2 separate regions of the Homo sapiens genome follow, and region 2 is linked to region 1. Evidence: fine-mapped expression QTL. A gene starts in region 1. The other region holds a variant in brackets. All regions are shown on one strand. Distances are between the middles of the regions. Region 1 holds the start of KIAA1958. Region 2 overlaps HSDL2 (hydroxysteroid dehydrogenase like 2).

The links. PIP is the estimated chance that this variant, and not a neighbour inherited with it, causes the effect.
Region 2: its variant is the best candidate, but not a certain one, in a credible set for the expression of KIAA1958 in whole blood (TOPMed, PIP 0.73).

What each region holds. Positions count from the first base shown.
Region 1 is chr9:112,484,696-112,489,090 of GRCh38, forward strand. KIAA1958 reads left to right here and starts at 2,132. Exons shown (of 4, transcript NM_133465.4): 1 at 2,132-2,423. HSDL2-AS1 (HSDL2 antisense RNA 1) reads right to left here and starts at 2,949. Exons shown (of 5, transcript NR_171779.1): 1 at 2,284-2,949; 2 at 1,695-1,846. RefSeq lists an enhancer at 1,611-1,670 and silencers at 2,101-2,160, 2,241-2,730.
Region 2 is chr9:112,411,458-112,415,852 of GRCh38, forward strand. All of the region lies in intron 4 of HSDL2 (hydroxysteroid dehydrogenase like 2), which reads left to right. Among named protein-coding and RNA genes, the nearest start is that of HSDL2, 34 kb to the left of the region's middle. The variant G/A (reference allele first, on the strand shown) is at 1,924.

The DNA.
Region 1 (4,395 bases):
GATTGTGGCAAAAACAATTTAAAATTTACCTTTGTAACTACTTTTAAGTGTACAGTTCGGTGGTGTTATATTTACATTATTGTGTAACATCTCTAGAAATTTTTCATCTTGCAAAATTGAAACTCTGTACCCAGTAAACATTATATCACCATTTTCCCCTCCCTCTACCCTCTAGCAACCACTATTCTACCGTCTTGTTTCCACAAGTTTGACATAATCCCACAGTTTACATACCTCTACATAGTTCATATAGGTCAAATCATAACAGTATTTGTCCTTTTGTGACTGGTTTATTGCACTTGGCACAACATCCTCAAGGTTCATCTATGTTGTAGCCTGTGATAAGATTTCCTTCCTTTTTAAGGCTGAATAATATTCCATTATATGTATATATCACATTTTCATTCATCTCTTCATCTGTTGATGAACATTTGGGCTGCTTCAACCTCTTGGCTATTGTGAATAGTGCTGCAATGAACATGAATGTGCAAATATCTCTTCGATATCCTGCTTTCAATTCTTTTGGATATTTACCCAGAAGTGGGATTGCTGGATCATATGGTAGCTCTAGTTTTAGTTTTTTGAGGAACTTCCCCACTGTTTTGCATAGTGGTGGTACCATCTACATTCCTATCAGCATTGCATAAGAGTTCCAATTTCTCCACAAGATCCCATCTTTAGAATATGCAGCAATTAACTAGGGGGTTTTCATTTTTGGTCTTTTTTGTTTGTACAAACATTATTGTGTCAACATTTACACAGATTTTAAATTTCAGCCTAGACCTGGAAGAGTGTTGATAGAGGAAGGTGTTAAGAACATCAACCGGAATCAGCTCTAGAGATGGAGAGGGGTTGGCAGAAGCTACCTAAAAGAGAACATGCTTGATGTGGTAATGAAGTTACCTGCTTGGATTCTGGACGACCCTGGATATTTTCTCCTTTGCTAAGAAGTTAGCTTCTTTCTCTCCCTCAAAAATATTCTTCTCTTCCCTTACCTACTCCAAGGGTACAAGTGACTGGGGTATGCCTGTCACAGATGAGGTGAGGCCAAGATGTGGGCACTACGTAAGGCCTGACAGATATGGTGTAAATGTTATTTATTACCATGATTACTGTTTTGGAGATGGTCAGTGCTGTAAATAGAAAGGGAGTTAAGAGCAGACTCTGAAGCCAGACTGTCCGGAATGAATCCAGGCTCCTCTAGCTACTATCTATGTGATGTTGAAAAAATTTCTTAATTTCTCTGTGCCTCAGTTTCCTTATCATAAAATGGCAATGTTAATAGCACCCACTATGTAGAGTTCTTAGGATTAAATAAATTAATATTCGCTAAGTACTCAGTGCAAACTGTGGGCACACAGCAAGTACTACGAAAGTGTTAGGTAAAATAAAGGTGGACCAAGCCTGGTAGCACCTAGCAAGTCCAGCTTCATCTTTGCTGTGCTGAGTCGTGTAGGTGGTGTTCTTGTGTCTCTGGTTTGCTGGAGGACCTAGTTTTAGTGTATTTTAGGTATCATTAAGCATCCCCGCTCCCTCGATGGGATAGGGGTGTGTGTGTTACAGGTGGTTGTTGGGCACCTTCACGGGGCAGCGGTGACTATGGGCTGTACGTAGTATCTCGGTAGAAAGTGTTAATGCACATCCCTGGGCGGAGAGGTAACTCTACTCAATGCGTTATAAGGGAAATCACACACCTCACGGATGGTGTAGGTTCTGTCTGCTCCTTGCGTTTCAGTGGAGGTGCACAGAGCTCCGGGGGGCATCGGGGACCGCGGGCCCAGGACGTGTAGTAGGGAGCAGTGCTGTACACTTCCTCGGACCATAGCGGGGACGGCGGGTTCCACACCTGTCGGGGCAGTAGGGACTGAGCTCGTGCGCGCGGAGGATGGATTGCTCCAACCTCTCGGTCCAGCGCGCCGGCCGCCGCGTGCGAACGTGTGTGCGGCAGGAGGCTCGATCTACACCTCCTCGGGGCAGCAACGACTGCGAGCTCGGTGCGTGCCGTAGGAGGTGTCGTTACACACTTCCTGTGGGTCTCGCCGACCACGGCGCGTTTCCGGTGCCGGCTGGAGCCCGGGGTCCGAGCCCCCGCCCCGCTCGCCGGCCCCGCCCCGGCCCGCCCGCGCCCCGCCCCCTGCCCGCCCGCCGCGCTCCGAGCCGGGCGCGCGGAGCTCGGGGCGCACGGAGCGGCGCGCGGCGGTCGGCCGAGCCAGGCTGGCGCCCCCGCCCCCCGCCCCGCTCCTCGGTCCGCCGCCCGCCGGGCGCCTTCCCCGCTCCACTTACCTTTGGTGCCCGGCCCTCTGGCCGCTCTCCTCCCGCCCTCGCGCCCCTTCGGCCCGTCCCGTCCAGCCCGGGCTGCCCGGCTCTCGCAGGCCCCCCCGCGCCGACCGCGTTCCTATGGACAGACGCACAGACACCTGCAGGTGGGTGAGAGCCCGCGCGCGGGGCGGGGACGAGTGCGCCGACGCCGCGACCCAGGCGGGGAGCCCCTTTGTGTGGGGGGCGGCCGCGCCGGGGTCGACTCTGCTTCCCCGTCAGCGGCCGCGCGGTGACCCGGCTGAACCTTCCTTTTGTCTCCTCTCGGGGGAGCGAGGCCGGAGCGAGGGCAGGGACCCGGGCGGCCGCTCGTCGGCAGCGCCGGGCTTGGGGGTGCGAGGCGCAGAGACCCCCGGTGGCGGCTCCGGTCCGCCTGCCCCGGGCCGCCCCGCCGCCCGGCAGCTCGGGTCTCAGCGGCGGCTGCAGGCGCAGTGCGTGGGGCTGGCGCCCCCGCTCCTGCTCTTGGGTCTGTCGGAGGTGGGAAGGAGGGCGGGAAGGAGGAGGAAAAGGTCTGTCCTCTTAGTTTCCAAGTCTTGAGATGCTTATGGAGAAAGAGAGGTGGTTCAGGGCTCTGCCCCACTAGTTTTCCTCCTCGGGTGGCTCGCCGAGGTGCGTTTGGGGCGTGTGTGAAGGAACGTGCATGGCTTCGCTCCCTTATTTATTGTTTCTAACGGAGGAGGGCTTTCTCCAAAAGGCTCTTCCGCCCCCCCACCCCCATCTGAGGCTGCGCACAGTGATTTGTGTTTGTTATCAAATATATCGAGAAATGTATTCCCCTGGGTAGGAGGAGGTTGGACTGAACAACGTCAAACCAAAATCAAAGAATGTTTTTGGTTCCTTCAAGTCTTTTTTTTTCTTTAAGGTTTTAGATTGGGACTTTAAAAAAAATGAACGTGGCTGTGATTTTTACAATTATATGTATTTAGTGTGTGTGCGTGTGTGTGTGTGTGTGTGTGTGTGTGTTTTGAAGTTTAGGAGTAAAGTTTTGTTTTTTCCCGAACTCGTTAGGATTCGCAAGACGGAATCCTCTCCCGACGAAATAAACAGCTAACAAGCCAGTCAGGTAGTGACAGCTTCCATGGTGGAGGTTAAATTGGAGTGCAATAAACAATGATCTAGCTTTCCCTTCAGGCTGAAGCCTTTATTTCTGCTGATTTAAGATATGAGATCTTTCCCTACCCATGAGACCATGAATGTCAGAATTGAGTTTCCCCTCTAGGATTGTGCCTTTACTATTTTATTCCACGTATATAACCCAACGATTGGGTTGTGCATGGATATGGATACAGTGTTTTGAAAAATACTGTAGGGTGATGTTTCTGAATTGTCTTATTTGATTAGCTAGCTAAGTTTCTTCATGAACGGTTGCTGTGTATTGTAGATACTCAAATAATAAATGAGGTTGAATAAGCACCCAGAAAATTAATTTTACAGATTCAGATTTTTAATACGCAGGTATGGATTTATGCCTGTATCAATCTCAATCTACTGCTCCGTTCTGGAAACTCTTTTTTGCCCACCCTGTGAGAATTTATATTGACAAAGTTAAGTCTGACAGTTACCCAGGAGATTAAAAAAACGAAGAAGCAGTTTTGGGGGCCATGCATACAATTATATGGACAGTCATATGTAAAAAATAGAGGTTTTCCTAAAAAAACAAAAAGCATTATCATCTAAACTTGAAGGAAAAACGTGGAAAATTATGTATTTAAATTTTCATTAAGGTTTGAAAATTAGTAAACAGTGTACAATTTAATGCACTTTTTTAAAGACAAACTGATTTTTGTCATTATAAAAAGTTTAGTATGCTTAAAATAGTGCTTTTTTCTAGGAGAAAAATTTATCTAGATTCTTGTCCCAGTTAAACAGATTAATATTATTGCATGCCTAATTTTGTAAATGCCTGGAGCGTAGATTTGTACACACATTACTTAAAACCTAGCAGTGATCAAGCCAATCCTTTTTAGTTGATAAAATTTTACTAGTTTCTGCTTTGACTTCCAGTCTGCATTAGGTAAATGAATTTAAATTCTGCACAGAAGCACAGCTCAGTATGTGGCTCTGGTAGGCCCTTGACTA
Region 2 (4,395 bases), 73 kb before region 1:
TGAGGTCAGGAGTTTAAGACTAGCCAGGCCAACATGGTGAAACCCTGTCTCTACTAAAAATACAAAAAATTAGCCAGGCGTGGTGGTGTGCACCTGTTACTGGACTATTCCGGAGGCTGAGGCAGGAGAATCGCTTGAACCCAGGAGGCGGAGGCTGCAGTAAGCCAAGATCACACCACTGCACTCCAGCTTGGGCAGCAGAGTGAGACTCTGTCTCAAAAAGAAAAAAACTATTATGGCAAGCATATAGATTGTGATGAAAAACTTGAACTAGAAAGAGTTTGTGTTTATTTTCAAATAAAATAGGCAATGTTGCTATGTGATACTGTCATGGTACTAGAAAAAATTATATGGGAATAAAAATATTTTACAGCTGGCAACTTTGTGAAAGAATTTCAATTGAATGTTAAGTATTTGTTTAAACAAATGCTTAAAAATATAAACCTAGCCAGGAATATTATTGCTCAACATGTTGAACTAAGGCTTAGTTAAGGGCGTGTTGTGTGAATAAGTTTAATGATTTCTGGCAGTTTCTATTATAGATGATGAAGCCACAGATATACATATACAGGTTGAGTATCCCTGGTCTGAAAATCCCAAATCCAGAATGCTCTGAGATCTGAAACTTTTTGAGTGCTGACTCGACGCTCAAAAGAAATGCTCTTTGGAACATTAAGGATTTCAAATTTTTGGAGTAGTGATGTTGAACTGGTTAAGTATAATGCAGATATTTCAGAATGAAACCTGAAACAATTCTGGTCCCAAGCTAAACTTGTACCACACACCTAGGTATATGGCGTCAGGAGAATTTTGACGTGATTAAAAAGGTTTTAGACTGGGTTTTCATGACATGAAATGACTTCCAAGGTATTGACAAATATCTTGGCAAGTTTAAGGCAGATTTATCAAAACTAGTAATCATAACTATAGACAGTGCTGTAGCAGTGGTCAGTGTTAATTTTAGACTTATTAAAATCTAAACAAATGTAGGTATATGTTTTGCAGGGGTGCAGAAATTGTTTGTTCATTGTATCATTCACTAGGAATTGCTCCCTACTAACAAAGTTAAAAATATACGTTTTCTTTCCAAGAGATGATCAATACAAGTAAAGCATTGAATTTTATGTAGATTTGTCAAAATTAGTAATCATAACTATAGACTTGACCTTTTAAACTGACATTATGACTGATGTGTACATAAATGTATAAGTCTCTTTGTTTTTTCCTTGTGAAATTATGTCTTTGGAAGCCCATTTGGCAAAAATAATTTGGTCTACTTTCCTATATTGAGGTCATTTTTCAAAAATGAAAGTGATGTCTTAACCCACATTTTTAGATGTGAAGGTGCAATTAAAAACAAAACAGACCAGGTGGGGTGGCTCACGCTTGTAATCTCAGCACTTTGGGAGGCCGAGGCAGGCGGATTACTTGAGCCCAGGAGTTTGAGATCAACCTGGGCAACATAGTGAACCCTGTCTCTGTTTTAAAAAAAATTACAGTTAAAATTAAAACTCTCGCACAAAGATTCTATTCACTATTGAAAGTTCCTACCTTTATAAACAGCCACTTAAAAAAAAAACACTAAATAAAATTAAATATTGCTCCCAGTTAAAAGCAGATTGAAATGCCAAATGAAAGACCTCACACTGACTTTTGGGTCAAAGAAAAGTGTCAGATTTTTGGCCTTCTATGAAAAGTATGTTATAAAATGAAAATTCATAATGAAATATTTCTATTTTGGCCAGGTGTGGTGGCTCACGCCTGTAATCCCAGCACTTTGGGAGGCCAAGGCGGGCAGATTACATGAGGTCGGAAGTTTGAGACCAGCCCGACGAACATGGAGAAACCCCGTCTCTACTAAAAATACTAAATTAGCAAGGTGTGGTGGCACACGCCTGTAATCCAGCTACTCGGGAGGCTGAG[G/A]CAGGAGAGTTGCTTGAACCCAAGAGGCAGAGGTTGCGGTGAACCAAGATCACGCCATTGCACTCCAAGAGTGCAACGAGAGCAACAAGTGCGAAATTCCCTCTCAAAAAAAAAGAAAAAAAAGAAAAGAAAAGAAATATTTCTATTTTATTTTATTTTTACTTCCCTGGTAACTCACAGAACACATTTCTTTTTTAATTTGTATTTTTCAATTTAATTTATTATATACTCTCCAGTATTACATTGTTTGTATCATGTTAAATGCTTTTAGAAGCTTAGTAGTAAGGTTCAGTTGTATCTCTGAACAGTTGATTTTTCTTATTCCCAGCTGTTTGAAATGCTTGTTCCCTGGTGCCATAAAGAAATAGCACTTGAACATAAATTTAATTTACTCAGCAAGGCCGTTTTTATACTTTCTGCAGAAAGGGTATACTTGCCAGCAGTTTTGCCACAAGAGTACACCGATCAAAGCAGACAGGGTCATTTATAACCTGACGCGTCCACCCTACTGCTGTGTCCGGTTTCCATTGGCTGGAACGGGACCTGACGTTCTGTATTTGTCCCGGTTGGCTAGCAACTTAGAACTTTTTTTAAAAAGAGGCAAAGGCAGAGGAGAACAAAGGAAGGAGGAGGTAACTTGTGGAATGCTGAGAACGGTAAAAACACCTTCAAATAAGGAAGAGGAACAGGCTATGACCTAATGCTTGCTTGGACCAGTATATGCATGCCAGGGCAAATATTTAGGCTAAATTGTGGGAGCTAAGAACTTAAAGTACATTGATTTCTTTATCATGGCTAGCAGATATTTAAGAATGTTAGTACGGGTCTTTGAATACATTTTGCTTCTAAGAGAAGTTACTATTTATTCCTAATTAGACAGGGAGGAAAGTCTTTGAAGAGGAACCTCTAGTTTTTACACCAACTCACTTTATTCATTTACTCAAATGCCTTACAGGTCTTTGAGTTTGAAACCCCAAGTAAGTAAAATAATTCATGAAAGGTAATAAAAACAGAGTCTGGCACATAGTTAGGTTTTCAGTAAACGTAACTATTTTATTCGGCTGAAGGTATCAGTATCTAAGTGTGGTGCTAAGAGTTTTCAATATAATATATAAGAGGGCATGCTACTGTGACAGATGCACCTGATGTAGGATTAGCAATGTTGAGGTCCAGGCCAGCAAAGTGCAGATGGAAAGGTCTTGTCCCATAGATCAAAGGAAAGCCCATGTTTAGAATGTAAATGAAATGAGCTCTTTCCTTTGAGTGTAAAATATGGTCTTATTTACTGGAGTAGATTTAGTTTGTTTCTTCTTGATGCTTCGAGTTGCAGTTTCACTGTTTTAATGAAACTCAGCTGTAATATTGTTTGCCCCACCTCACCTCACCTCCATAAAAGTGAAGCACCTTTGGAAATGAAAACAGTATCTACCAAAACCCCTCTAGTGGTATTGATTATATTTGGTAAGCTTGGTAAGATGTTGCTGTTTTTAACACCAGTATTGTACATTTGGTAATTAAAAAACTGACTTGAAAGAAGAATGAACTAGTTCATTCACAGCTCCTGGTTCAGGGTAAAGAAAAAAAAAAGAATGGACAAGTTCAGAGTCCTAGAAGTCCTAGAAGTCATTGAATGTAAACGAAAGCTAAATTTGTAGCTAAAATAAAGCTATAAATTAAGCTATAATATATTATTTAGCTGCTGACATTATGTAAAAATTAACATTTTAGAAATATTGAATCTGAATCTTAAATAAATTACCTACCTTAATGAGTGACTTTTTAAAAATAAAGCTATGTATTGCACCCAAAGGCATATTTTATATTGGTGAAAATTAAATTTGGGAATGTAATGAGAGTTATATTACTAAATTACAGTTCCAATGTAGTAGAAGTACTATGCCTATTAAGATGAAATAAATCAGCATACATAATACTAACAACAGCGATTGTTTATTTCATGTTTAGTATATACATTGTCCTAAGTATCTCATATATATCATCTAATTTTAATCTCTTGGTCAATCATAGAAGGTAGTGACTTTTACCAACATTTGCAGAGGAGAGAACTGAGCATTAGAATGCTATACAATTTTCCCAGGGTCACACAATGAAGGGGCAGAAGCAGAATTTGAACCCTGGTCTGTCTGACTTGAACACTCATGTTATTTACCACTGTGCTGACCGACAAGTATATTAACTATCTCTGAAAATTACATATGTGTGTTAGGGAGGCAGAATTTGGGATGGTTGTGGTTGCGGATAACCTCAGTTGGGCTTAAGGCTAGTATATCAAGGATTTGTTTTTTTCCATCAAGCAGATCATGTTGCCAGGCCATTAAGCAGAATTTCAAAGGATGAAAATTAGTTGCTTTTTCTGTCTTAATTCTAGAAAGCAAACAAAAGTACCCTATGAACAAAACAAACAAACAGTTCCCTACAGATTTCTGAGCAAGTTCAGTTACTCTGTAGGAG